4 linked regions of the Homo sapiens genome follow. The protein of the gene in region 4 interacts with the protein of the main gene of each other region in a pairwise test. Each region holds a gene or a part of one and is shown on either strand. Other genes may lie near its edges.

Region 1 (7,029 bases), on a different chromosome or scaffold from region 4:
CCCACAGTGCTGGGATTACAGGCGTGAGCCACTGCGCCCGGCCTGAATTTTTTATAATTATGAAAGAAATACTTTTTTTTTTTTCAAAGATAGGATCTTTCTCTGCTGCCCAGCCTGGATTGCATTGGCATGATTTCTGTTCATTGTAGCCTTGACCTCCCAGGCTCAAGCAATCTTCCTGCCTCAGCCTTCCAAGTAGCTGGGACTACAGGTGCACCACCGGATCGGGCTAATTTTTTTTTTTTTTTTCTAGAGATGGGGTTTTGCTGTGTTGCCCAGGCTGTTCTTGAACTCCTGAGCTTAAGCGATCTACCCACCTCAGCCTCCCAAAGTGCTGGGGTTACAGGCATGAGCCACCACACCTGGCCATGAAACACTTATTCTTTATAAGTACTTCGGAAGGTATAGAATGACACCAAGAAAAATATTTAAATCATCTACAGTTCCACAATTCAGAGAAAACACTTTTGTTAACATTTGGAATATTTCCTTTTAAATCGTTCTCTGTTGTGTATGTGTATTTACGTATATATGCATAGAATTATTAAAGAAAATGAGAATGTTGTATTTTAAAATATCAAACTATATAAGGTGAAACTAATCTTAAGAAAAAACAAAAAAGCCAAAAAATCATACTATTCATTTCTAATGTGTACAGACTTTTTGTTTTAAATTATAATGTTGTTTGTGCAGGTTCTTTATCCTAATGGAAGAACCATTTCTCCTTAAACTTTTACAATACTAGCTTCTTAGAGATTGATAGTTCTACTAGCAGTGCTTGACACTGAAAATGTTATGCGTTAAAATATTTAATTTCATTCTGAGTTAACATTTTTCCCCTGAAGCATTATTTTATGTAACTGGAATACCCAGTCACTTCAGGATACAGTCATTGTCGAAATCCTTGTAGGTTAAATATTGGATTTTCCTCAGATCCTGAGGTTCAGCTTCTGTGTTTTTTTTTGTTTGTTTTTTTGTTTTTTTTTTTTTGTTTTTGAAACAGAGTCTTGCTGTTTCACCCAGGCTGGAGTGCAGTGGCACAATTTTGGCCCACTGCAACCTCTGCCTCCCGGGTTTAAGTGATTCTCCTGCCTCAGCCTCCTGAGTAGCTGGGATTACAGGTGTGCACCACCATGCCTGGCTAATTTTTATATTTTTAGTAGAGATGGGGTTTCACCATGTTGGCCAGGATGGTCTTGAACTCCTGACCTCAGGCAATCCACCTGCCTCGGCTTCCCCAAGTGCTGGGATTACAAGCATGAGCCACCATGCTCAGCCTCAGCTTCTCTGTATTAAAGTCCTGAATTCTTTGAAGTTGTTACCACCTAAATGATCATTGAAAAACTGTATTTTTTAGTGCAAAATTGTTCTTAAAACTAATTTAATAACTTAGCTAATTGCCTATAGTTGTGTTAATAAACAGTGGTCTTAGAAACGCTTAGAAATGGAAGTTTTTTACAAAAATAAGCTAACATATTTAAAATGCCTTTTAAGTATTTTGTAAAGTGTAAAATTCAGTACAGGTGCTCTCTCAGCTAGTTTTTTTTTTTTTTTTTTTTCCCCTTTACTAAAGATGAGTTCAAACAGTGAATGTTTGACTCCTGGTTCCATAGACCATACCTTCCGTTTTTATTTGTTCGTTCTCTTAGACTTTGGACTTCCTCTGAAATGTCCTCTGTAGGTTCATGAGCAGGAGTCACAGGACCACTTAGAGAACAATCTTCTGGTCTTAGAGAAATTGGTAGAAATAAAAGAATAACATAACGATTACAGGTACTTTTGTCTTTATTTCTAGGTCCACTCTAATCTAGAGGAATGTATCTTCCTGCTTGTGATTTTTCTATTTTAACCAGATGGTTCATTATATGCAAATAAAATATGTATTTATTTTTGAGATAAGAATCTTGCTCTGTTACCCAGGCTGGAGTGCAGTGGCCCAATCACAGCTTACTATATCCTTGACTTCCAGGCTCACACAGTTCTACCTCAGCCCCCTTAGTAGCTGGGACTATAAGTGCACACCACGACACCCAGCTAATTTTTTAATATTCTGTAGAGATGGAGTCTCCCTCTGTTGCTCAGGCTGGTCTCGAATCCCTGGGCTCAAGTGATCCTCCCACCTTGGCCTCCCAAAAGAGTTTCTTTTTGCTGGGATTATAGGCATGAGCCATTGTGCCCAGCCTGATGGATTTTTTAAATACTTAAATATCAGAGATGTTAACATGGTGTTTCAGGTTTTAATGCCTTCAAGCAATGTAAAATCTACCACACAGTTCTTGGGAATATGATACTTTGAAAGTTGTTTTGCATTCTTGCCATGGTTAACAAGAAATAATGAGTTATTTTTTTAAAGTACCTTAAGTGTTTTACTTAAAGTGTGCTTATCACAAAATACTCTATTTTCAGATATTTAGTCCTGGATATTGCAGATAATCCAGTTGAAAATATAATACGTTTTTTCCCTATGGTAGGTACCAGTATTTTTTAAATATCATTTAAAATTTATTTATGATTTGACTTCTTAGTTGTGCTTTTTTTTTTTTTTTTTTTTTTTTTTTTGAGACAAGAGTTTTACTCTTGTTGCCCAGGCTGGAGTGCAATGGCGCAATCTTGGCTCACCACAACCTCTGCTTCCCGGGTTCAAGTGATTTTTCTGCCTCAGCCTCCCAAGTGGCTGGGATTACAGGCATGAGCCGCCATGCCCAGCTAATTTTGTATTTTTAGTAGAGACGGGGTTTCTCCATGTTGATCAGGCTGGTCTCAAATTCTCGACCTCAGGTGATCTGCCTGCCTCAGCCTCCCAAAGTGCTGGCATTACAGGCGTGAGCCACCGTGCCCAGCCCCTTTAATTGTGCTTGTAAAGCTTGCTACTTTTACTTTGCTATGACTGAAAATTATGTGATTGTGTTTTTAAAAGAATTATTTGTAGAAAATTTTTTATGATCTCCAGAAATTTGAGGAATCATATTGTGAATGTATTGGACTTAAATTAAATTTTGGCTTCTTTAATTTTTTTGGACTTGTAATAGTTCTATTTATAGCATTTTGGAAATTGGTGAATCAAAATAATTTTTATACATATAAATTAGGAAATTGTTTTCAATAGGTTTCATTTTGTTTCATTATATGCATTTATTTTATGCTTACATTAATCCACATGTCTTTTGCCTCCAGACTAAGGAATTTATTGATGGGAGCTTACAAATGGGAGGTAAATAACATTTCCTTTCCTTAACTAATGTTTATATTTTGATTATTTGTTAATTTTTTAGTTGGTATTTGTCTTAAATGCAGGATATGGAAGTTACAATTATATGTAGTAGCTTACTCCCAAATTTGTATTTTCCCAATTACTTGTTTCATTTGGATAGGCTTTCTGGAGTATCCCTGTAGACTGTTTTCAAATTCTCTGTGAGCTTTCAGTTTCTTTAATAAGAGTCTGCTATATTCTCTACACAGTTGATAATAACAAATTGTAAAGATTTGAAGATATCCAAGTGATTATAGTATATAAGGAGTTACTTTACTGTGGTTTCAATGTAGTTCAGCTACTGACTCAGGTGTTTTTCTATTAGAATAATGAATTCATGTTTTTCAGGAAAAGTTCTTGTGCATGGAAATGCAGGGATCTCCAGAAGGTATGAAGTTAGAAATAATCTTTCTTTCTATAACATTTAATTAATGGGCTGTATTTTCTGGTTGTTTTTAAAATTATTTTCCCCTCTTCAGTGCAGCCTTTGTTATTGCATACATTATGGAAACATTTGGAATGAAGTACAGGTAAGAAAATACCCTAAAACCTAGCCACAGTTTAAATTCTCATTAAAATGAAACTTAATGGGAATAGTTTGGAAGTTTGAAGTTCTTATTCCCCTGATTATTTTTCATGTAGTCATGTTTGATTAGGCAGGCCCTTATTCCATGATTAGTCTTAACCTAATTTATCTACTTGTATAGATATGCATAGGCTAATATGGAAATCCTATGGAAAACTACTTACCTACCACAAGGGAATTGGTTGGTATGAGTATAAAAACTCGTGACCACAAATGTTAGTGCTTGCCTTATTTAAAGGGCTAATTTATCATGTTCTCCTTTAACAATAGTTGGATGAAAAATTACCTAGGAATTGTTTGCAGCATCTATTTACAATTCAGAGTAGTCTTTCTTATCAAAAATCATCTTTTCCAAGCATTCTGTATAGATTTTTTAAAAGATAGGGGGTGGTAATGAGCTTCTTGCCCCAAGACAAAGCAAAAGCCTGGCCAGTGTACAGTATTTCCTTTCTCAGCTTTTCTTGTTCTACAAATTAGAAATCTTATAGTAATCATTGACACATCTTTCTATTTCAGTCCCCTTTTATATCTAAATTAGAATGGATAACTTTGCTTAAAAATATCTATTCTTAAAGGAATATTATTTGAATACAAATATTTATTTATTTATTTTTGAGACGGCGTCTTGCTCTATTGGCAGGCTGGAGTGCAGTGGTGCGATCTCAGCTCACTGCAACCCCCGCCTCCCAGATTCAAGCAATTCTCCTGCCTCAGCCTCCCTAGTAGCTGAGACTACAGGTGCACACCACCACGCCTGGCTAATTTTTGTATTTTTATTAGAGATGGGGTTTCACCATGTTGGCCAGGATGGTCTCGATTTCTTGACCTTGTGATCCACCTGCCTCGGCCTCCCAAGGTGCTGGTATTACAGGGGTGAGCCACTGCACCCAGCCAGAATACAAATATTTAATTGAAAAAAGATTAAACATGTATTGATGGACTTTATGTTTTATATATTGTTTTTATTATTTCGAATTTTGTCAGACCATTAATGTTGGAAATAACTTGTATTTATTGGGTCTCTGCTATGAGCTCAGTACTATTATAGGCACTTTAAGCCTCATAACAAAAGTAAATAAACCTCTTTAACCAGTGATAGTATTTTGAGCTTGAACTTGTACTATATGCACAAAATGCTTACATTTTATATATTTATTTTAGAGACAGGGTCTTCCTTTGTTTCTCAGGCTGGAGTGTAGTGGCACAATCATAGCTCACTGTAGTCTCAGACTTGAGGACTCAAGTAATCCTCCCACCTCAGCCTCTCAAGAAGCTGGGACTATACCACATCACTGTGCCTGGCTAATTTTTAAGTTTTTTGTAGAGATGGGGTCTTACTACATTGCCCAGGCTGGTCTCAAAGTCCTGGCTTCAAGCAGTCCTCCTGTGTTGGCCTCTCAAAGGATTGGGGTTACAGGCAAGAGCCACTGCACCTGGCCACTTTACACTTACCTCCTATTCATAGTAGTTCCCCAAGGTAGGTGTTATTAGACTCTTCATTTTACCAATGGACAAAATAGAGCTTAGAGAAGTTGAGCAAGCTGCCGTAAGCATATAGCTGGTGAGAAAAGGAATTGTGATATTTAATCTCATCATGCTTTTTCCATTACAACTCATTACCCCTCTCTATTGCTAAGTTGTATGATTATGATTAATTCATTAAATAATGCTATCACATTAACACTCTTTTTCTGTTTTCAGAGATGCTTTTGCTTATGTTCAAGAAAGAAGATTTTGTATTAATCCTAATGCTGGATTTGTCCATCAACTTCAGGTAACTTTTCTTCCTCTTTAAGGCAATCAGAAGTAAGATATAAAATCTTTTATACATGTAATTTAGGTGTACAATTTACTTTGTGAATACTTAAAATTGCCATAATCTGACTACTTTGATGCTTTATTCAAGTTTATATCTCTATTTAGAAGTATTTTCTTGGCTGGGTGTGGTGGCTTATACCTATAATCACAGCACTTTGGGAGAACAAGGCATTTGGATTGCTTGAGGCCAGAAGTATGAGATCAGCCTGAGCAACAAAGTGAGACCCAATCTCTAAAAAATAAAAAATTAAAAAAAAATTAGCCAGTCATGGTGGTGCATGGCTGTGGTCCCAGCTACTCAGGAGGCTGAGATGGGAGGATTGCTTGAGCCCAGGAGTTTGAGGCTACAGTGAACAGTGTGCCTTTGCACTCCAGCCTGGCCCACAGAGTGAGACCCCATCCCTAAAAAATTAAAAAAACTTTTTTTTCTTAAAGGCTGGCATTACCAAGAAAAAAGGGTTAAAGACACATTATCAAATCTAAAGTAAAATAATTGCTGTTAGAAATGTCTGATTTTTTTTTGTTGTTCATTTTGATCACACAGAGCATAAGACAGTTTTGATTCTAAGTATACTAACTATAACAGCTTTTTCTATTCTATGTTTATCTTTTCCATGTTGTTTCATATTTTGTTGATGCCTGGCAGATGCACTGACAAAGATGATAAGTCTATGAATTAACCTAATTAGACCACGTTGCTCAGTTTATTCCAAGAGGCAAAATCATAGGCTGCAGAATGTGCTCTGGCTAATTACATCCAATTATGTAGGAATAAAGCTCATGTTTCAACATCAAGAATATTTATTACAAAATATATTGTTATAGTTACCAAGGTTTAAATTTTATTTTAATATTTAATTTACTTTTAATTTTTACTACATTCAAAAGAGAAACAGTGTCATCTGTGTTCAGCCTGTTCATGTAAAATGTTTGTCTTCTAACTTTGTAAGTTTCTTTGCCTTTTACCATGTTGTAGAAAACATTGTTTTTTTTCATTTTTTTTAAACTATTTTTTAAGCTTTTCTTTTTTTTGTGGATACATAGTAGGTTAGGTATTTCGATACAGGCATGCAATGTGTAATAATCACATCATGGAAAAATAGAGTATCCATCCCCTCAATCATTTATCCTTTGTGTTACAAACAATCCAATAATGCTCTTACTTGTTTTCAAATGTGTAAAAACATTCTTTTTTAAAATTAATTTTTGTATTTGAAAGAATAGTATATACATATGTTTAAGAAGATTGGCCTGGCTCAGTGGCTCACACCTGTAATCCCAGCACTTAGGGAGGCCGAGGTGAGTGGAACACCTGAGGTCAGGAGTTCGAGACCAGCCTGGCCAACATGGGGAAACCCCATCTCTACTAAAACTA
Region 2 (7,029 bases), on a different chromosome or scaffold from region 4:
AGACTTACATGTTAGACCTAAAACCGTAAAAACCCTAGAAGAAAACCTAGGCAATACCATTCAGGATATGTTATATTTTTATTTTAGTTCAGTTCAAAATATGTTCTAATTTGTCTTGTGACTTTCTCTTTGGCCCATGGATATTTAGAAATGTGTTTTTTTAATTTCCAAATTTTGGAAATATTCTTCTTTTCTTTCTGTTACTGATTCCTAGTTTAATTCCTTCATGGTCAAAGAGTATACCTTGTATAATTTCAGTTTTCAACATGTGTTATTTTATGGCCCAGTATATGATCTGTCTAGATGAATACCCCATAAGAACGTGAAAAGATTGTGTATTCTGGTGTTTTGGGTTGTGTGTTCTATAAACACCTATTAAATCCAGTTGGTTGATGGTGGTGTTCTTTTACAACCTTGCCTTTGCTTCTTTTCTTTCTCCTCAATCTACTTACTATTGAGAGGGAACAGTTAAAATCTTCAATGATAATTGTGAATTTTCCCATTTCTCCTTTCATTTTTGTCAGCTTTGCTCCATGAATTTTAAGCTCATTTTTGATGCATATATATTTAGGAATATTATGTATTCTTATGTACATTGCATCATATGTCCATCATTATGTAATGTCCCTCTTTATCCTTGGGAATTTCTTTGTGCTGAATTGATATTAATATAGTCACTCCAGGTTTCTTTTGATTAGGTTTTCATGATATGTTGCTTTTCACTCTTTCACTTTAAATGTGTCCATATCATTATATTTGAAGTGAGTTTCTTGCGCTTCTACACCTGCATCTGAGTCCAGGGTCAGGTATTGATAGGAGAGAGAGGGAAAAGAGCTATGATTGTTGGCTGCTTTAGAATTACGGCTTCACTAATAGATAACTTGGCTTCTCAGTCTTCACTTTTCCAAAATTTTTACTTGAGTATATTCATAAAGCTGAAGTGAAGGAGGAAATAGGTAGCATTTGAGGATAGAAAATACAAAACCAATTCCAGACATTAGGTCAGTGGTCCTCAAACATCAGAGTTTGAACATAAGAATTCTATTATAAATCCAGATTCCTAGGCTACATCTATAGAGATTATGCTTTGGTAGTTCTAGTCTGGGGTCTAAGAAACTGTATCATCATGTCCCGGGTAGCTCTGATACAGAGAACCTAAGGACAGCACTATGAAATTTTTTTTCTTACCTAATGATTGTGGTAGGACACCTAATATTACACTGCTATCTTAGAACTCATTACTCAGGAACAAGGCAGGACTAAGTTCATTCACACAGACAAGTGGATAAGGTTGGAAAATTTTCATTGTGTTTCAATTGCGCTTCAACTTAGATTTTGTCCCTTTCTCGGTAGGCCAATTTTAGCATGCATTTATTAACTGGACTTTTCTATTTAGATAAAGTGGCTCTGAAAAGACTTGGTGTGATTGATAATATATAAAAAGAAAGATTGAAGATATTTGTGTAATTTACTCAGTTTGTCAGTTATTTCTCCTCTTTTAAGATATCTACTTTCCCCAATCTTCTAAGCTGCTTTTTTCTTTTTATTTACTATTTATAGAGAATCCAGAGTAGAGGAATTGCTAGTTTTTACAGGCTTTGCTTTCCATCAAGCCTTGTGTGACCAACATATACGTCTTACATCTTCAGCAACTCTGTTTCACCCGTATCCCTTCAACTTTCATGTGGGGTTATAAAGATGGGTTATTTTCTTAGCCCAAGTGCTTTATTCCACGATATAATAGTATGAGAATCATCTTCTGTTACCAGTAGCTTTATCTTTTTGGACCACTTGAATTATATTTTATGTGGATCCTGAAATAGTAATGGAAACTAATCATCATGTCTTCAGTTCCGAGCATGCTAAATTGACCATAACTTTTTTAAAACAATCAAGCCACCCATAGTTTGCCAAAGATGATGATTGGACAATGATGACCCTTAAATAATTGTACATTTTATTTCTCCATATTAAATGAGTTCCTCGGATTTGGAAATGAAACTCTCATTAAGAACATATGTAGTATAATGGAATTCAGAACAGGATATCTCAATGTTGTTGTTCTTACCACTGTTTTATCAATGGAAAATGGTGCCAAAATGTTTTAGATGTATATGAACTTTCTGACCACAAGGTGTGTATTTATTATTTTACTAAAAATAATTTACTAAATAATATTGTAGTGTCCTAGAAGAGTTTCTACATTTCTGAAAGGAGAGTAATTTTCTTCTTTCCCTCTGAAAAACTATCTGATATCACTACAATGAAGTGATTCCTTTGGGGTTAAGAAATAAAATAATATACTACTTTCATCCTGGTTTACTTTTCTAATACCACTGATGTAGAGGTGATTCTGTGCTTTGGGAAAGGTATATTGTATGCATAAATGAACGTGGGTCTCTCACCTAAGAGAAAATAGAGAAATTTAAATGCCCAGTAGCATGAGTACTAGATCTGCCATGATAATTCTATTGAATTTGGGCATGTAAATAGCTGAAATTTGCAAGAAAAACAAAATAAAGTACAGACGCTTGCATGATTTGGGAAGTAAAAGATAAAAATAGTAGGAGATTGGAGAAGAATTCTTGTAAAAAGAGGTAAGTAATTTTCTAAGGACAGCACTTGTTACCACAAGCATTTCCAGTGAAAATCTGGGGTACCATTGCTAGGGACTATGTTATAAAACAGATCTCATGTTTGCTTTTCTAACTGGTATTTGACCTAGTAATATTCTTTTTGATTCATATGTATTATCTGTTTCCTCCTGTGGCCAGTAGCAAACAGGAGAAGCCATTATTCAATGCAATGAATATTTATCTAACAGAAGAAATAAAGATGAATGTATTTGTTACTAAATAAATTCAATTGCTCTAACAAAGATACTTAAAATAATAGCAGGTAAAACAATAGAATATTGTTTTTCTCTCTAAAAATCAGAGTGGGAACTGTGAGGTTGGTATGGTAGTTTCACTTTCATCAGGGATCAGAATATTTTGTCTTAGTGCTCTACCATCTTTGACACATGGTTTCTACCTCATGCTCCTACCAGACTCTCTGCATTTCAGCCAGCACAAAAGAGGAAATGTAGAAAGGAAGGCCATATCACATCTCTGCTAACATCTGTTTACTCACATTCCAATAGCTATAACTTGATCAAATGGCAATGCTTAGTTGCAGGGAAGACTGAGAGAAATGTAGTCTCTATCTAGATGGCCATATTACTTACACAAGTAAGGAGACGATGGATATTGTTTGGACTACTGAAAGTTGCTACCACAATAAGTACACTCAGATTTCTTACCTCAGAGAGCTTAAATACTCTGTAAGCGTGAAGAAAACTGTTCATTGTAATACAAGCAATAAGTATGAAATAAGAATTGTAGGAAATGCTTATATTTAAGGAAAGCTTAAATATGATAAAAATATTTATAATTTCAGCAGCAGATAGGACATCCAGGAATAGAAGCCCAAGTAGGTATTGAAACTATGGGTGTAGATAAAGGAGGAAATTTCTTAGTAAAAGTGGCATCAGAATATCTGAAAAATAGAACTTTTTCAAAGTACGCCCACTTTTATCCACCTAAAGTCTTTGAGAGGCCTTCATACCACCAGGTGTATACTATTTGTTGAGGATCATGAAGCAGACAAAGAAATATGGAGACTAACCTAAATCCTTCACAAGTCTTAAAGCCTCTCAAGAAAGGGTAATCCTCTTCATCAGATATATCTACCTCTCTTACTGAATAGGGTCTTTGATATTGTTTCTGCTTCTTCCCTCTTTCAGGGTGCTTTTCAGGAAACAATGATCATTTTTTGGCAATTAATCAGAAGAAGAGTGGGAAGCCGGTATTCATTTATAAGCATTCACAAGACATTGAGAAGAGCCTGGATATAGCCCCACAAAAAATCTACAGACATAGCTACCATTCCTCTTCCGAAGCTCAAGTAAGCAAACGCCACCAGATTGTCAATTCAGCATTTCCTAGACCCGCATATGACCCGTCTCTCAATCTGCTGGCCATGGATGGTCAAGATCTTGAAGTGGAAAATCTCCCAATCCCAGCAGCAAATGTAATTGTGGTGGTAAGTAGTATGTTAAACTGATGCTGAGGCTGATGTTGATTCTTTCCTGTCATTGATGCTTGAAAAAAGAAAAACACTGATTGTGAATAGTTATCAATGAATCCCAACGGGTATGTACCACAGCACTTATTCTGTGGTACTTCTAATTTCTTACTTGACTGTTGTCTGTTTTCTTCCTCTTACGAAATCAGAAAACTTGTCTGTATCCTCCGCTCATAGCAGAATGCATGGTACATGGTAGATGCTTAATAAATATTTGAATAAAAGATTACTTTAGGAAGGCCTTACAATTATAGTTGATTATATCTTGTACTGAGCCTCCTACCTTCTGTGAGAATCTGTTTTAAGCAGATAGGCCTTAGTCTCAGCCTGTGTAAATAAATAATACTTATTGAAGATCCTCTGGTCACTTGACTCAAATTACAATAAATAAGACAACTGAAAGGGGAGGTGTGGTAGAGGGAGAGTAGTTTTCTGTCACTGGAGCAAATAAAATGAGTTGGGAGTAATTGATAGATAACATTTTTGATATTACTGAATAATAACCATTCTTTATTAATAAAAGTGATACAATGATCCCATTGCTTATGTTCTTAAAGTTCCCTTGCTTGTATAACCCAGGTCAGAGGTTTCCAAATTGTGGAGGTTATCATAGTTTAAATACATACTGAGGTTGACACCCTATTTGAACTACAGTCACTCTCTGGTTTAACATCATTATAGAAGGATCCACATTGAAACTACAAATCAGTAGTTAAATGGTTGTTATTGCATCTCTGCTCCAAAATATAATCAAATGAGTTGATTTGTGTGGCCAAGATAATTCAATGAAACCATGTTTGCATTTTGGCAACTCCTCTATGCACCAAATGTAATTAAATCTAACAAGCTTCTTTTTTTTCTTTATTTTTTTAACCTACTACATATAGTATACTTTACTTAATATTGAGAATCAAAGTTCCATTCGTCAATGTTTTCAGCTAGCATACACTCAGTATTTATTATGATCTAGTTTCCCCTTGGGATATCTGGAAACAGAGACAAATGAAATACAGTCTCTTGTTTTGCTTGGAAAATGTCCAGAGGGAAATATCAATAATTCAATAAAAATCATAAGCTAAGAACACAAGATGAACTCTTGTTAAGAGAAAATATGTGGGTCACTTGGCATCCTGAAATACTTGAACAAGTTTTCTGCATTTACATGAGTAGCAGATGTTCTGAAGGTGAAAGTCATGTACTCTGTCTATTCAGTGAAGATAAATGATGTTAATGATGTCTCTGTATCTGGAGATGCTCCTGTTAATGCTAGGGCTCATGGGAGATATTTCCTTAGTGACCATCATATACCCATAGTCATCAACTCTTAAAGTCACTGTGAATTACAGTTCAAGAGGCTTGTTCTATCTTGTAATGTCATGTACTGTCTAGTTAATTTAATATCATGGACAATAAAAGGCACCAATGAGGAATTCTGGCAGGTCATTTCACTTTCAGCTTATTTGTGGTTTGGAGATTGATGAAGAAGCTGTGCTTTTCCTTTGGGGTGATGATTACATAGAGGCAATAGGCAATTTTGCTGCATTAGCTTTCCCTAGCCTCTGACCATGCTGTGGCTTTGGTAGCTGGCAACACCAATTGCCAGTCCTAATGTTTCCTGCAATCCACTTAGATTACTTATGTGCATGATGATTTAGCAGCAAAACTGGGGAGGCAGGGTTATTTTTTAAATAAATCAATAATGTTTAGCTTCCTCAAAAAGCAAAGGGGTGATGCAATTAAATGTCAGCTGATTTGAAGACCCATTCCATACAGAAAATGGATGTATGGATGGGGCATACAGGAAGCAAGGGATATATTCTGGGGCAGCATAATGACTTTAATGGAATAATTGATGTGTGTTTGTGCTTATCATATGTACATGAGTATAAAACATATACATCAATGCAGACCTTCTTGTTTGAGGGATATTGCAGTGGTACTAAGAATTATTTTGAGACTTAATTTATACTCAAATAGACCATGTTCTGACTATCAGTGTCTTGAACTGGAGAAATTATAGGCATTTTTTTTCCAGCCAGGGTAAAAAGCTACACTCAACCTCTAAACTTTATATGTAACTTCTAAGACTTCCTAGCTCAGAAGGAAGGATCAAGCATTTTTCCTCCAATACTTTTTTCTTTCTTGTTTCAACTATCATTGGCAATGAGTTTTAGAATGCTACCTTTAAAAAGGGCATGAAAGTTGTGTCTCTCCTCCCTTCCTGATTCCCAATTGCCACCGCAAAGCATTTCATAAGAGCATTTATCCACAAATGAATTTTTTCCCTCTTTCTTCTTTTTATTAGTAATCAGGAAAATTTATAGTTTATTTGTTACAAGGAGAGTACAACACAATTAGAATGTTTATCCCAAATAATGCTAACTATGTTCCGGAACTCAATTAAGAAGCTGTTATTAGGATTTCTGTGCAAGTACAATGTAGAGAAGATATTGAATGCCTCAAGGTCAGTACTATGGTAAGAGGAAAAAAATACCGCTTTAGATGAAAGTATGCTGTAAAATCCATAGCTCTTGTCACTGGATCCTCAGGATATTTGTCAAGACACAAGGCCACAACACCAGGAAGGAGGGAACCCAGAGGTGCAAGTGAAAATGGTGGAATGGTAGCAACTACAGGCCATTTCAGTTCAGCATAGGCTGCTGAGTGAAGAATGTTCTAGCCTGGACAGAAATCTGAGCAAACTGAGGATTAGTAAGGCTTGGGAATATAAGGGGTGGTTTTTGACATCAGTGAAACGGCATGGAAATGGGAAGATTATGATTTACTCTGTGAGATGGACTCATGGGTAAGAAAAATAAAGGAAAGGAGAAGATGGAGGAGAAGAAACAGGAAGAAGAGCAGCAGGAGAAGGAAAGGAGGCAAGGAAAGAAGGGAAAAAGAAGC
Region 3 (7,029 bases), on a different chromosome or scaffold from region 4:
TTTTCCTAAAATATAGAAAATATACCTGCATACGAAATGGGATTACCTGCATTCCCCACTGCCCCCACACCATCTATCTCCCAACCTCTCCTAACCCTCACCTTCCCCAACCAGAGGAGCTCTACCTAAGAAGTTCTCATGAGACAGAATCATACCTTTGCCGCAATGGCAACAGGAATCTGCTCTATTCTTCCCTTCTACTTAATTAGGACATGAAAAGGAACATTTTCAGGAGGAGGTAGAGCCAATGCTACTAGCCTCGATACATTTGAGTCAAGCACTCTGTTTAACAAGGCAAATCGGAATAATGAACTCTGAATTTTTAAAAAATGTTAATAACAAAGTTAAGAGTAAATTAGTGAACTCTTAATTCTTAAAGGCAGTTCCAACAATCTGAACCTCAAGAAGTTAATATCACCAGAAAGTGATACAGTATTATCTTTGTGCTTCCAATTAATGTGCCTGTTTATAGTTTTAGTAAACCTTATGCTGTATTATGACTTAATGTCATCCAAAATCCCGTTAAAACCTATACATAAATTTCACATAAGAGTAAAATACTATGTATTATTTCCATCAGCACCTTGGATTTTTCCTACCACTTACCTGAATCGCCACTGCTAGCGGGTGGGAGATCATCAAAAAGCAAAGGTCCCCCTGATCCTGAAACACAGCAGAACACTTAGTGAGCCCACAAAAAATATGTAAGACTTAAGTTTCAGAATCCATCCCACCAGGACACCTATGTAGGTTACTGAAATAAACTCAAAACTTTGCGTCAATCCAGTGGCAACTCATACTGCAATGAATAATATCTTGAACCTATTTTAAAGTCCTATTATTTCAAAGGAAATAAAAATCTGCCTTAAAAAGTTAAATTGTACTTCAGGTAGTAAAATAAATACTCAAATGAACCAGAGAAAACTGCTCCACATTTCCTCGCAGTACTTCTCAGGGCTAGCGACTAGCAGATTTTTCTGCCTTACCTGATGCCATGGATTCAAAACTTAAAGACAGTCCAACACCTAAAACATCTGTGTGTTGAAAATGGGGGAAAGGGAAAAAGATTGAGACAACTACAATCCCAGGATGAGTAGAGACGTTGACACACACCTGGGAGAGCCTGAAGACTGTACCTGAGTCAGTACTGCTGGCCGGAGGGAGGTCATCAAAGAGCAGGGGTCCTTTCTGAGCTTCTTTCCCTAAAACACAGAAAACCTGTTTAGAGAGCATATGGTCATCACCCAGGACAGATTTTCAAAGAGGAAGATCATGTGGTCTCCCCTGCTTTGACACAAGTTTGCTATTAGATTCTAATTTTCTCCTTCCTGTTGGGCAAATTTTTAAAACATATTTTCTTAACAGCTTTTTTAATATGGACATCTGTTTCCAACAGTTACAGTCAACATAAAAGCAATGATTGATGCCCTAACAGGCATCTTCAGGGCCACTGAATATTTTGAGGAAAACAAGTATTTTCTTGATAATTTCATTATTGAAAGCATGAAACATTTAAAAGTCTTTCTTTAAAATAGAATCCTGGGAAGAAAAAAACTGATTCTAGACCAGGAAAACAATACTTGAGACTTCCTGATAGACGTTCAGAAATTTGGGGTGGGGTGGAGGAGGGGCCTTCAAAGACCTACAGGTTTATAAAAATCCTATTTCGGTAACATTCTGCAAGGGAAGAAAATCTGTTGGAACCTGGTGTCCCTAGCCCCAGCACAGTGTCTGATTCAATAAATAGCTATGGAGAAAATAAAGGAGTTTCAGGTAACCAAAGACAGATAGCCTCAGGAGAAAGTCACGAAACTCTTTTAACAAAAAATGTGAAGATTTACACTCCAAAAGTATGTCTTAAATGTTTTATGCCCAATTATCTTTTTCCACATAAAATTTAACGACCATTCCTTATTTTCCAGCTTTTTCCTGAAATTCTGTTTAAGCTATTAGATATCTGAACTGGCACACAAGAATCCAAGTTGAAAGTATACACGTTCACCTCCTGCAAAGTTCAACACACCAACCAAACACACCAGCTCTATCCCACCTCTTGCTCCTCAGAGTTCAAGTATAAAAACGTGCTCATTTACGCCAGGCGCAGTGGCTCATGCCTATAAACCCAGCACTTCGGTAGGCTGAGGTGGGAGGATTGCTTGAGTCCCGGAGTTCGAGACCAGCCTGGACAACATGGCAAAAAAATGTCTATGAAAAAAATACAAAAATTAGCCAGGTGTGGTGGCAGGCGCCTGTAGTCCAAGCTACTCAGTAGGCTGAGGTGGGAGGATCACCTGAGCCCAGGGAGGCCAAGGCTTCAGTGAGCCATGATTGGGCCACTGCACTCCAGCCTAGGCAACACAGTGAGACTCTGTCACAAAAAAAAAAAAAAAAAAAGTACTCACTTAAAAACCAATTCACTTTTTTTTTTTTTTTTTTTTTTTTTGAGACTGAGTCTCACTCTGTTGCCCAGGCTGGAGTGCAGTAATGTGATCTTCGCTCACTGCCTCCACCTCCCGGGTTCAAGCTATTCTCCTGCCCCAGCCTCCTGAGTAGGTGAGATCACAGGCGCACACCACCATGCCCAAATAATTTTTGTATTTTTAGTAGAGACATGGTCTCACCATATTGACCAGGCTAGTCTTGAACTCCTGACCTCAAGTGTTCTGCCTGCCTCAGCCTCCCAAAGCGCTGGGATTACAGGGGTGAGCCACCATGTCTGGTCTAATTTTTGTATTTTTAGTAGAGACGGGGTTTCACCATGTTGGCCAGGTTGGTCTCAAACTCCTGGCCTCAAGTGGTCCACCCGCCTCAGCCTCCCAAAGTGCTGGGATTACAGGTATGAGCTATTGTGCCAGGCCAAACACCAATTCAACTAAACAAATAAATTTATATCCCCCAAGAGGGTCATCCCTATCATCTTTTTGCCTCCATTTAGAAATGAGCTGGGTATCAACTTTCTTCTTTTAAAAACAAAAGCTTTAATTAAAAATTTATAAACTTAAGGGAATGAAATTTCTCCCGGGGTCTTTGCGTCAGAAGTACCTAAAATACACAAGAAATTCCTGAGTTAACAAAAAATAACTATTTTGCTTTATATCCCTAATACAAATGGGAAAATGTATTCTAATCCTTCAGGATGACCCTAAACAAATTAAGGAATTGCAAATACTTTCACTTTTCTTACAAGTGACATAAAGACTCTATTAGAAGTATACAAGAAGCAGAAGAAAGCCATTAAAAAGTATTTAGTATGGCCAGGTGTGGTGGCTCACACCTATAATCCCAGCACTTTGGGAGGTCAAGGTCAGGACTGAGGTCAGCAGTTCAAGATGAGCCTGACCAACATGGTGAAACCCTGTCTCTCCAGAAATACAAAAATTAGCTAGGCATGGTGGCGGGTGCCTGTAGCCCCAGCTACTTGGGAGGCTGAAGCAGGAAAACTGCTTGAACCTGGGAGGCGGAGGTTGCGGTGAGCTGAGATAGCGCCACTGCACTCCAGCCTGGGGGACAAAACCAGACTCTGTCCCCAGCACCCAAAAAAAGTATTTAGGATAACCATTACTCAATGTATTAATCCACTTACAAGAATTCCTAATATCCCGAAGTAGGTCACTTTTGCCCAAACATTGGGTCTAACAATCACAACGCCCGTTCTCCGGACAGACTCAAAAACCACATGAGATGTTCCAGACAATCACGCTGCATTCAGTGGTGTCACAGAGCCAGATGTCTTAGGACAAGGGAGGGGACATTTACAGGTAACAGCCCAACATGAAGAGCAAACAACCCTTCCGCTTGTACCAGGTCATATTTTAACTTTTGAATTAACTTGCCCATCTAAATCAGGTCTTTCCACTGCCACTGTACAAGGGAGGAAGTCTTCTTTTACCCAGGTAATAAATATATTTTCAGTTCTTGTAAGCATTCCTCACAATGCAACTTACAGCTTAGTATTAATACTAGCCTGGCCGCCTCTCCTCTGGCTACAATTCAGTCAGATGGTGCCCCAAACTGAGCCCCATCCCCAGAGAACTGCCTATCACCTTCTTTCTCACTCTGGAATACTATGAGAGGTATTTCAATTAAACACAATGAGACCATCCTACATTTTGCTGGCCACAACTGGGAATGGCTTCTAAAAATGATAATACTGCCTGCCTGTCAGGCACTATTCTAAGAGCTCCACACATCTTCTCATTTAATTCTTATGAGATAGGTACTATTATTATTTACCGATGAAAAAACTGAGGCACTGAGGTCAATTACCTGTTCAAGATCACAGAGCCAGTAAGGAGTGGAGTGGGGATTCAAAGCCATGCAGTCCGTGCTTTTAGTGAGGTACTATGCTGCCTCCATACATGGGCACCCTTCCAGAAACTTCATAAACATCAACTCATTTTACCCTTACAACAATCCTATGATGATAATCCTGAGATTTTATAAAATCTCTGGAAATAATTTTTGCATCATCAAAAGAATCTAACTTAGAAGTCTGTATGTGGATTCTTTAAAAAAAAATCTATAGGTCATAGATACATAAGGAAACTACTGATTAGTCAAAACCTTAGATTTTTTTTTTTTTAAATTGAGACAAGAGTCTCGCTCTGTGAGCCAGGTTGGAGTGCAGTGGTGTGATCACAGCTCACTGCAGCCCCAACCTTCTGGGCTCAAGCAATCCTCCCTCGTCAGATTCCCGAGTAGCTGAAACTACAGGCATACACCACCATGCCCAGCTAATTTTTTAACTTTTTGTAGAGACGGGGTCTCACTATGTTGCCCAGGTTGGTCACGAACTACTGTACTCAAGCAATCTTCCTGCCTCAGCATCCCAAAGTGCTGGGATTACAGATGTGACCCACTGCTCCAGGCCCTTACATTCTATTTTGAATAAACTGAAATTCAAAGCATTGGGGGCTGCAATCATTGGACAAAGTGTGACCCTGACCTAAAAATCTGGAAGAGGCCCCTCCCCTAATCTTAAAAATATTAGAACCCTAATAAGAATACAAGACTAAAAATGTCCATTAATCATAGTTAATCTCATCTAGAACTTTTTTTTTTCCTCAGTTATCTACATTCTGGAGCTAAGTCTACTGGAAGTTATATACTATGCTGAGAAAAATACCCTTGGGTTGATCATATTCAGGTTAAAGGTTGCTGTATCCAATAAAGTTAAAAAAGGATGTTAAAATATTTTGGCTAAATTGTTTTTTATACCTCAATTTTTTCAACTATAAAATAAATCCAGGTGTTTTCCAAACACCACAGAGGTATTATCAGAAAAAAGGGGGGACAGGTTCCGCCACACCCCCCAACCACAGTATGAGTTTAGTGTATCCTTTCCACTTTCCTTAATGCTCATGCACATGGACTCATGCATTTTAATTTGTAGAAGACAGAGTCATACTCTACACAATACTCCACATATAGTGTTCACATAACCCATCAAGGCATGCTCCAGGCCAACACACCCAAGTCTAATTCATCCTCTCCAACAGCCACACATGGGAAGCATCTCCACTCATTCGACCAGATCCTTACTGATGGGTTCAAGCTTTTCCCAGTTCTTCATATGATAAGTGACGCCACAATCAACAATCTGATACATGTATTCCTGCTTAATCTGCTAGACTGCTCGTCAAAGGATATTAGTTTAAATCTGATAGAAGCCAAAATCTGTTCCCCAAAAAGTTGTAATTTTCACTCCCAAAACACTTTATGAGAAAGTCTACTTCGCTACACATTCACCAATGTTACCAACTGTTGCTAATCTGATGGGTGAAAAGGTAAATAGTTCCTCAGCAACTTTCTGTTGATGGGCCATTTGTATTCCTTACCTCTGAACTGGGAGGATACATCCTTTGACCATTTTTCTAGTGGGTTTTATTTTTTCCCATCAATTCTGTGAGCCTTTCTTATACCCTTAGTAATGTATATTGCAATTATTTTCTCGGTTTGTCTTTTGCCTTTATAGTATCATTTGTCCTGCAGAAATTTTAAATTTTTACATAGTCAAATTCACTTTTTTATGACTTTTTTCTTGTTCAACCCTGTAGTTTTACAATCTGTTTTCCTCTAATACCTTAACCTTTATGTTCAAATATTCTTCTTTTTTTTTTTTAATCGTAGAGACAGGGGTCTCACGAAGTTGTGCCAGGCTCTTCTCAAATTCCTGGCCTCAAGCCATCCTCCTGCCTTGTTCCCCCAAAGCGCTGGGATTACAAGTATGCGCCATCGAGCCCAGCCTCCAATTTTTTTAAAGTATTTTTAAGATGGTGTGGCCATCAAATATTTTATTTCCTCCTCAACAACTGACCATCAATTTTTAAAGTACTAGTGTAGCAACCAAATAAGTAAAAGAACCACCCTATAAAAGTGAAATCAAGTTACTGGCGAAGCAATTTTAAACCATGACACCTTCAACTGACATACATGGATTGTCAATATAAGCTGCCAATCTTAAAGACATCAGGTCGGCACTTTTATGGGTATGACATAGGAAAGTTCCATTTCTGCCTGATATGAACAAACACTTTTTTTTAGGTAAAATATATACATCTCTCCTTTAAAAAACTTGATTCATTCAGCAATTAAAACTTTTAAGGGCTTGGATGAAAACTACTAATTTAGCAAAATACCTGAAATATTTAGTGCATTCTATGTATTTTTCTAGATTATAAACATTTAAGAGGTTTAGGGGTGGGAACATTAGATGCAACGTTTAAAACAAAAATAAAAAGATCTAAACAAAATATTAATACATTTGATGTGATATAAGCAGTGTAGTATTCTCCCTTTGGACACTCAGTGCTTTCCCATAATTCATTTAAGACTGCGTTTTTCCACTTTTAAACAACTGTTAATGGCTCAGCCAGGCACAGTGGCTTACCACTGTAATCCCAGCACTCTGGGAGGGCCAAGGTGGGCAGAACACTTGAGCCCCAGGAGTTCGAGAGCAGCCTGGGCAACATGGCAAAGCCTTGTCTCTACAAAACATACAAAAATTAGCTGGCTGTGGTGGTGCGCACC
Region 4 (7,029 bases):
AAATGCCTGTCCATTCAACCACCGACTTTTCATAGGCTTTCATCTCACAGGCCTGTCCTGATAAACCAGCTGCCTATAGGGCTGCACGGTAATCCTATGTAAATACTTGTCCATTCAACCAACCTTGAGATTCTGGGAGGGTCACCAGTTCATGAGAAAAGGCTGGGTTGCTTGACCCTATGTTGTTCTCTGCAAAAATGTCCACCTGGTATGCTGTTTCAGGCTCTAGGCCCTTGAGCTGATACTGAGTGATGGTGGCATTCTTTATCTTCACATCAACGTGCTGGTCTTCATTCTTGCCTTGAACCTTGTAACGGATAGTAATAGAAGAAATAGAATAGCCATCCAATATTGTCCAAGAAATCACAGCTGAGGAGTGTGTAATGTTGGAAATCTTGATGTTTTCTGGTTGAGGAGGAAGAACTAGAAATTAAAAAGAAAAAAGATTCACTTAAGATATACTACCATGGCCTAGATCATTATGCTTTTGAGATAGAGTTCATGTCAGCTCATATAAGGCAAACAAATGTTTTCTCATATGGTACCCCAATCAATTGGTAGTGGCTACTGGACTCCACGCAGACTTGAAAGAGTGGCACAGACAGAGAAATGGCAACACATATCATCTATCTGTCATCTTGACACTAAATGAAGGCCTTAGAAATTCTGTTATTCCACAAACCTGTACTTACTATTCTTGATGCTGGGAAGAATGGAAAGCTTCTGAGGGCTGGCATTTATATAGTGCTTACAATATGGCAGGCATTGATCTAGTCTCTTGTATATATTAACTCACTTCCTCTTCATAGCAATCTTTCTGTAAGTGCTGAGGTCTGGAGAGATTAAGTGACTTAGCCATGGTGACACTACTGTTAAGTAGAAGAAACAAGATTCAACTCCTGGCAGTCTGGCTCTGTAGTCCATAGTCTTAGTGTCATGTGGTCAGTCCTTGCCCTCAATTTATGGAGCAGCAGGCAGGTCAGTGTATACATGAGAAAATGTGCTAATAACTTTTAGTAGACAAAGTATTATAGGGATTTGGGGAAAAGTGGAATCACATTCCATTCAGGGACACGGGCAGGATGAGAAAGAGATGCCTTGAGGTTTTCCACATGTGAAGATGACAGGCACCGCAGCATCACTACATTCTCACTCAAACTCTAAAGGGCACAGGCTAGAAGGGAAGTTCGTGATCCAATAAAGGCTAAGCCTATTTGATCCAGGAAAAGAATGGATTCGAGCTCTTGTCCTTAATAGTAACTGTACCTTACATTTATGAGGCTATTTACAATGTGCTTCCACATGCAGACACTCTCTTGACTTGTATAACCACACAGTACTGAGATTTTTTATGATCCACATTTTAGAGATGAGAAAACTGAGACTTCAAAAGTTTAAGGGGTTTGTACTTGTCCCAGTAGGCGAATAGTAGACATAGGCTGTTTCATTCCATACACCATTGTTTTTCCACATGAAAGTTACTGCTTATAAACAATTTAGAACCTTTGAGAAGTATCTCAAGGTACATCCTTTCTATTTTAAATTTCTTCTTTTCATTATGTTGACTCCCCCTTGTTACTCTTTAGGGGACTGTGGCAATTTATGAGAATTAGGTATTGGATTTAGAACCTTCCAAATCTGATTGTTATGTTCTATGTCTAGCAGATGGTACAGTATCCAAAAATCACAATTAATCAACAGTATGTCTTAACTTTCTTTACATCCAGTACCAAGTCTTTTGTATATTTTTATAAAAATATACAATAGCCTTTCTTCCCACATGAGATTGAAGGAGTAATAGAAATACCAACATTTTCAGATTACTATGATCACATAGTTAATATTTGTATAGTTGTGGCTCAAAAAATTCAACTTCATAAACCAGTGGTCTTCTAAGCCTGTCACAAAAAGCAGCAGTGTCTTTTAGAAGCTTGTTAGAAAAATAATGAATATAATTTTTGTGCCAACTAAAAATCATAAATTTGCATCTACCAACTTACCATTTTATGCCTGAAAGGAGTCATTCTTAGGGATAGCTCAATAAACCTTTGATTTAAATTCAGCGGGTCTGGACCCAGCAATCTACATTTTAGCAGGTTCTCTGGGTGACTCTACAATAGATTCTAAAATGCTTTAGGAAACACTAATCAGACCTTAAACAATTTAGAAACGGGATATCACTACTTAAAGAACCTCTAGAAGCATAGTTGCTTTGAAGCAGTGGGTCGCCCATCCAAAGAGACAAGTGCAAGACATTTGTAGCATGGTGGGGGGAAAAATAGAACTAAAATGTGGATTAGAATCCTAATCCCCATGCCGTACTAGTTCCATAATTTTGGGCAAGTCACTTACCCTCCTCTGTGCCTCAGGTTCCTCATCTGTTAACTGTGATAATCATTCTTACTCTACTTTCCTCAAAAAGTCATTGTAAGGGTCAAATACTCCCCATGTAAATGTTTTCCAACAGGAAAACATAACACACATATATTATTTTTAACATATGATTGGGGTGATACGCCAAATCTAATTCACTCCACTTCTTACCCCTGGACCAGATGTAATTGCTAGGCTGGAAACCAACACAAACTTTATAACTGGAAGTATTAATTTTACTTATGAACATACATGATCAATGACAACACAGCATATTAACAAATATTTTCAGGTAAAAATGAGATGTTCTCATTCACATCCTCCTTCCTCGGATTTCCTGACCCTATAGGGATCAACTCCTACCCTGCCAATCTCACATCCCTACTACCACCACCAGCATTGACCCTCCATCAAACTTCATACAATCATCCAAGGCAAGTCGACTCCCAGTGACTATTAACTAGTTTTTGTTTAATCCTATAAATATGATAATGATAGTGTGATTTTGAGAGTGTATCATTCTAATGAGGATGAAACTTATGTAGTTTAGGTGAGTGAGCACCTCAGATAATTTTGAAATAGGAAATAGTGATTCATCCCATAGTTACTGACATTTCACAAGTTTATAGTTAATATGCTGGAAATGGTACAGGAACAAACAGATCAATGGAAGGGAACAGAACATCCAGAAATAGATGCAAAATGAATATGAGAACCTGGCATATGATACAGAAATCATCACAACTCACCATGGGGACTACTCAATACGTGGCATTGGGACCACTGACATGCCATATGTGAATAAATAAGATTAAAATAAAAATATTAAAATATACTGCACCCCAAAATAACATTTTTATATCTTAAAGACCTAAATACACAAAACAACACTAGAACTACTAGGAAAAACACAGAGAATATGTTTATGACCTTGGGATAGGGAATAATTCCAAAATGCAAAAAGTATAAATCACACAGGCAAATACTGACAGGTCCAGCTGCATCAAAATGTCAAGTGTCTGTGGGTTAAAAGCCACCACAAACAAGGTTACAATAAAGGGATTAGGAGAACATATTTGCAATACACATAACAAAGTATTTAGATTACACAAATAATTTTTACAAATCAGTAAGAAAGACAACCTATTCCAAATGAGCAAAGGATATCAATAAGTATATCAAAAAAGAGGACATCCAGTATATCAATAAGTATATCAAAAAAGAGGACAATTAACATAAAAAGATGCTCACCTTTGCTAGCTATCAAGGAAATCAAAATTGAAATTAACAATGAGGCACCATATTTTGCTTTTGAGATACGCAAAGTAAAAAGGTGTGACACTATCGAGTGATATAGGGAAAGGATATAGACATAGAGATGGGTATAAGGAAAATGGCACTGTCATACACTCCTGAACATAGTACACACTGACTAACCACTTTAGAGGGAAATAGCCCATGAGTTCCACCACCGGACTTGTTCCTAGAAAAACTCTCACACCTGTCTATGCACATGGAGACATGCATAAGAATGGGCATTGCATTTTGTTCATGATAGTAAAAAATGAAAAAACCTACATCTCCCTCTAAAAGGGAGAGGATGAATGACAAGATACATTCATAAGATAGAATATTATACAGAAGTTAAAATTACATGCATCAAAGCTAAATAAACATGGATCGATAAAATTCATAATGTCCATTCAAAAAATGAAGAATGATATGTATGCATGTGTATACTTTCAGAGATATTAAAATTATAGAACATTGGGCTTGGCACAGTGGCTCATGCCTGTAATTCCAGCACTTTGGGAGGCGAAGGCGGGAGGATTGCTTGAGCCCAGGAGTTCCAGACCAGCCTGGGCAACATAGGGAGATCCCATCTCTACAAAAAAATTTTTAAAAAAAGTCAGGTGTGGTGGCGTGTGCCTGTGGTCCCAGCTACTCAGGAGGCTGAGGTGGGAGGATTGCTTGGGCCCAGGAAGCCAAGGCTGCAGAAGCCATAATGGCACCACTGCTCACCAGCCTGGGCAACAGAGCAAGACCTTGTCTCAAAAAATATATACATACAACATTAAATTAAAATATACTTAACAAACTCATAATTTTGGTTGTCTCTTGGGAGAGGGGAATAGAAATAGATAGGGATAACAGTTGCAGGAGATACTGATACACCTGTAGTGGGTTATTACATAAGTCAACAACAAATGCTGAAAGCAAATATGACAAAATGTTAACAGTTGTTAATTCTGGATGGGAGGAATGTGATTGTTCGTTGTGTTACTGTTAGCATGATTCTGCACCTTGGAAATTTCACAGAATTAAACATTATATATGAAGAATTCCTAAACACTGACAAAACAATTCAGACTTTCATAAGTCACTGATGCAATAAAAGAGTGGCCAAAGAAACACTGAGCCAGCTTCCACACCTGTTCCTGAGGAAGTGGAGAACCAGCTGCAAAGACAGCCTCAGACTCTGGGAGGTGGCAAGGGACCACATAATCTCCCATCCAGGCCTGACCCTGCTTAGCTTCCAGGATCAATGAGATCCAGTGTGTTCAGGGTGGTAAGGCCATAGACCACATGATCCTGACTTCAGTGGTAGTTGTGTGTGGCCAAGAAATAGTTTACCTTTCCAAGGGTTCCAAATGCACACAGTTCTAATTTCAGTGAATCAAAATAAAACTCTCTGCTTAGTTTAGTAATGAATAGACTTTCAATACTACAAAGAAACCCAAGAAATTCCCATTAATTTTAAATGACCAATCTGAAATTGAGAAGCCTGAAATGCAAAATACTTTGGAAAAAAAAAGTGATTTTATTACTCCTAGATAAATCTTTTAACTTTTAAAATTACCTGTTTTCAAGGGGTTTCAAGCAAAGTTATTTGGTTTTTATGGTTAGGTAAGACCCATCTGGAATTAACTGACATCTGTGTACATGTAGATATATGATAATTCTTCAAAACTACCCCATAAATGGTTCAACAAGCCCTAGAAAAACTTCTTGTTACTAATTTACTAAATAAACAACTGCACACCAAGGGAAGGTAAATTTTAGCACAGACCTGCCTGAATTATTGCAAATCCAAATATATGTTATATATTGCAAGTTATTAAAATGATTAGGTGGGGGGCACTAATTAGCCTTCTCTCACAACTAACTTTCTTTCATAATTTCCAATAGTCCTGCAGTGATGTTAGCTAAGTCTGCATGGCGGTAGCCCCTTATTGCTCAGATGAGGCTGGAGCAGCATGAATTACTTACTGTCACTAAGGGTCCAAGCAGTGAGATCTTCACTCCATTCCCCCTGGGCCTTGGTGTTGACTCTAGCTCGGACCACGTACTGCTCCCTGGGATGTAAGTTGTTAAGTAGCACCGAAGTCAAGTTGCCTGGAACTTTAATATTCTGCTGATCACTTTTTTGCACAGACCTTCTCTCCACTTCAACATAAAAGTCATCTTCCGAGCTTGGAAATATTGGTTGCCAGGTCAAATTTAGAGTGGTCTGACTTTTAGGCAGGAGATTTAGACCTCTTGGAGGAGGGAGTCCTAGGAGAATCCAGAAAAATCATTATTTTTATATATGGCTGATATAGTTTGGATTAGTGTCCCCACCCAAATCTCATACTGAAATGTAATCCCCAGTGTTGGAGGTGGGGCCTGGTGGGAGGTGATTGGTTGATGAGTGTGACTTCCCATGAATGGTTTAGTACCATCCCCCTTGGTGCTGTCCTCCTGATACCGAGTGAGTTCTGATGAAATCTGGTCATTTGAAAGTATATAACAGGCCCCAGTGTGTGATGTTCCCCTTCCTGTTTCCATATGTTCTCATTGTTCAATTGCCGGGGGAGGGGGGAGGGATAGCATTAGGAGATATACCTAAAGTTAAATGACGAGTTAATGGGTGCAGCACACCAACATGGCACGTGTATACATATGTAACTAACCTGCACGTTGTGCACATGTACCCTAAAACTTAAAGTATAATAAAAAATAAAAAATAAAATAAACAGGAGCTTTGTCAGAAAATAAAATGTTAAATAATTTCCATGGAAAAATAAATAAATTATGAAACAGTAAAAAAAAAAAAAAAAAAAAAAAGTGTATAGCACCGCCCCCCCTCACTCTTCTGCTCCTGCTTTCACCATGCAAAGTGCCTGCTCCCACTTTGCCTTCTGCCATGAGTAAAAGCTCCCTCAGGCCTCCCCAAAAGCAGATGCTTCCTATACGGCATGCAGAACCATGAGCCAATGGTTACTGTTTTTACTGTTTGGCTTGGTAAAAAGCCAAACCTCTTTTCTTCCAAATTACCCAGTGTCAGGTATTTCTTTATAGCAATGCAAGTACAGACTAATACAAGGGTGGAGTCAATGACAGCGCTAAAGGGCACCTTTTAAGAGTAACCTTGGCTTCTAGAATAAGATACCACCTCATAAGCTATCAAAGAAACACAAGCAAGTGGCCCATATGATACTTTTTTCCCTACCAAAATGATTCATTACATTATTTATAACAGCAAACAATTGGAAGAAACCTAAACACTCAAAATAGGAAACTGCTTTAATAAATTATGATATAGCCATTCAGTGGAAAAATAGATAACTAGGATAAGTATGAAAGCCCAATAAAGAGACTTCAAGTACATGTAGG

The links.
Region 1: the proteins of TEK (region 4) and STYX interact in a two-hybrid assay, tested with the Homo sapiens proteins (one study listed by BioGRID and IntAct).
Region 2: the proteins of TEK (region 4) and PTPRR interact in a two-hybrid assay, tested with the Homo sapiens proteins (one study listed by BioGRID and IntAct).
Region 3: the proteins of TEK (region 4) and ILKAP interact in a two-hybrid assay, tested with the Homo sapiens proteins (one study listed by BioGRID and IntAct).

The regions. Positions count from the first base shown.
Region 1 is NC_000014.9:52,754,145-52,761,173, forward strand, and holds part of STYX (serine/threonine/tyrosine-interacting protein), read left to right. Parts: intron 1-2,406; coding exon 2,407-2,467; intron 2,468-3,174; coding exon 3,175-3,211; intron 3,212-3,598; coding exon 3,599-3,638; intron 3,639-3,729; coding exon 3,730-3,780; intron 3,781-5,537; coding exon 5,538-5,610; intron 5,611-7,029. UniProt on the Homo sapiens protein: Catalytically inactive phosphatase. Acts as a nuclear anchor for MAPK1/MAPK3 (ERK1/ERK2). Modulates cell-fate decisions and cell migration by spatiotemporal regulation of MAPK1/MAPK3 (ERK1/ERK2).
Region 2 is NC_000012.12:70,889,733-70,896,761, reverse strand, and holds part of PTPRR (receptor-type tyrosine-protein phosphatase R isoform 1 precursor), read left to right. Parts: intron 1-3,784; coding exon 3,785-4,083; intron 4,084-7,029. UniProt on the Homo sapiens protein: Sequesters mitogen-activated protein kinases (MAPKs) such as MAPK1, MAPK3 and MAPK14 in the cytoplasm in an inactive form.
Region 3 is NC_000002.12:238,193,669-238,200,697, forward strand, and holds part of ILKAP (integrin-linked kinase-associated serine/threonine phosphatase 2C), read right to left. Parts: intron 1,203-7,029; coding exon 1,137-1,202; exon of another isoform or gene 1,114-1,136; intron 664-1,113; coding exon 607-663; intron 1-606. UniProt on the Homo sapiens protein: Protein phosphatase that may play a role in regulation of cell cycle progression via dephosphorylation of its substrates whose appropriate phosphorylation states might be crucial for cell proliferation.
Region 4 is NC_000009.12:27,196,214-27,203,242, reverse strand, and holds part of TEK (angiopoietin-1 receptor isoform 1 precursor), read right to left. Parts: intron 5,929-7,029; coding exon 5,644-5,928; intron 424-5,643; coding exon 124-423; intron 1-123. UniProt on the Homo sapiens protein: Tyrosine-protein kinase that acts as a cell-surface receptor for ANGPT1, ANGPT2 and ANGPT4 and regulates angiogenesis, endothelial cell survival, proliferation, migration, adhesion and cell spreading, reorganization of the actin cytoskeleton, but also maintenance of vascular quiescence.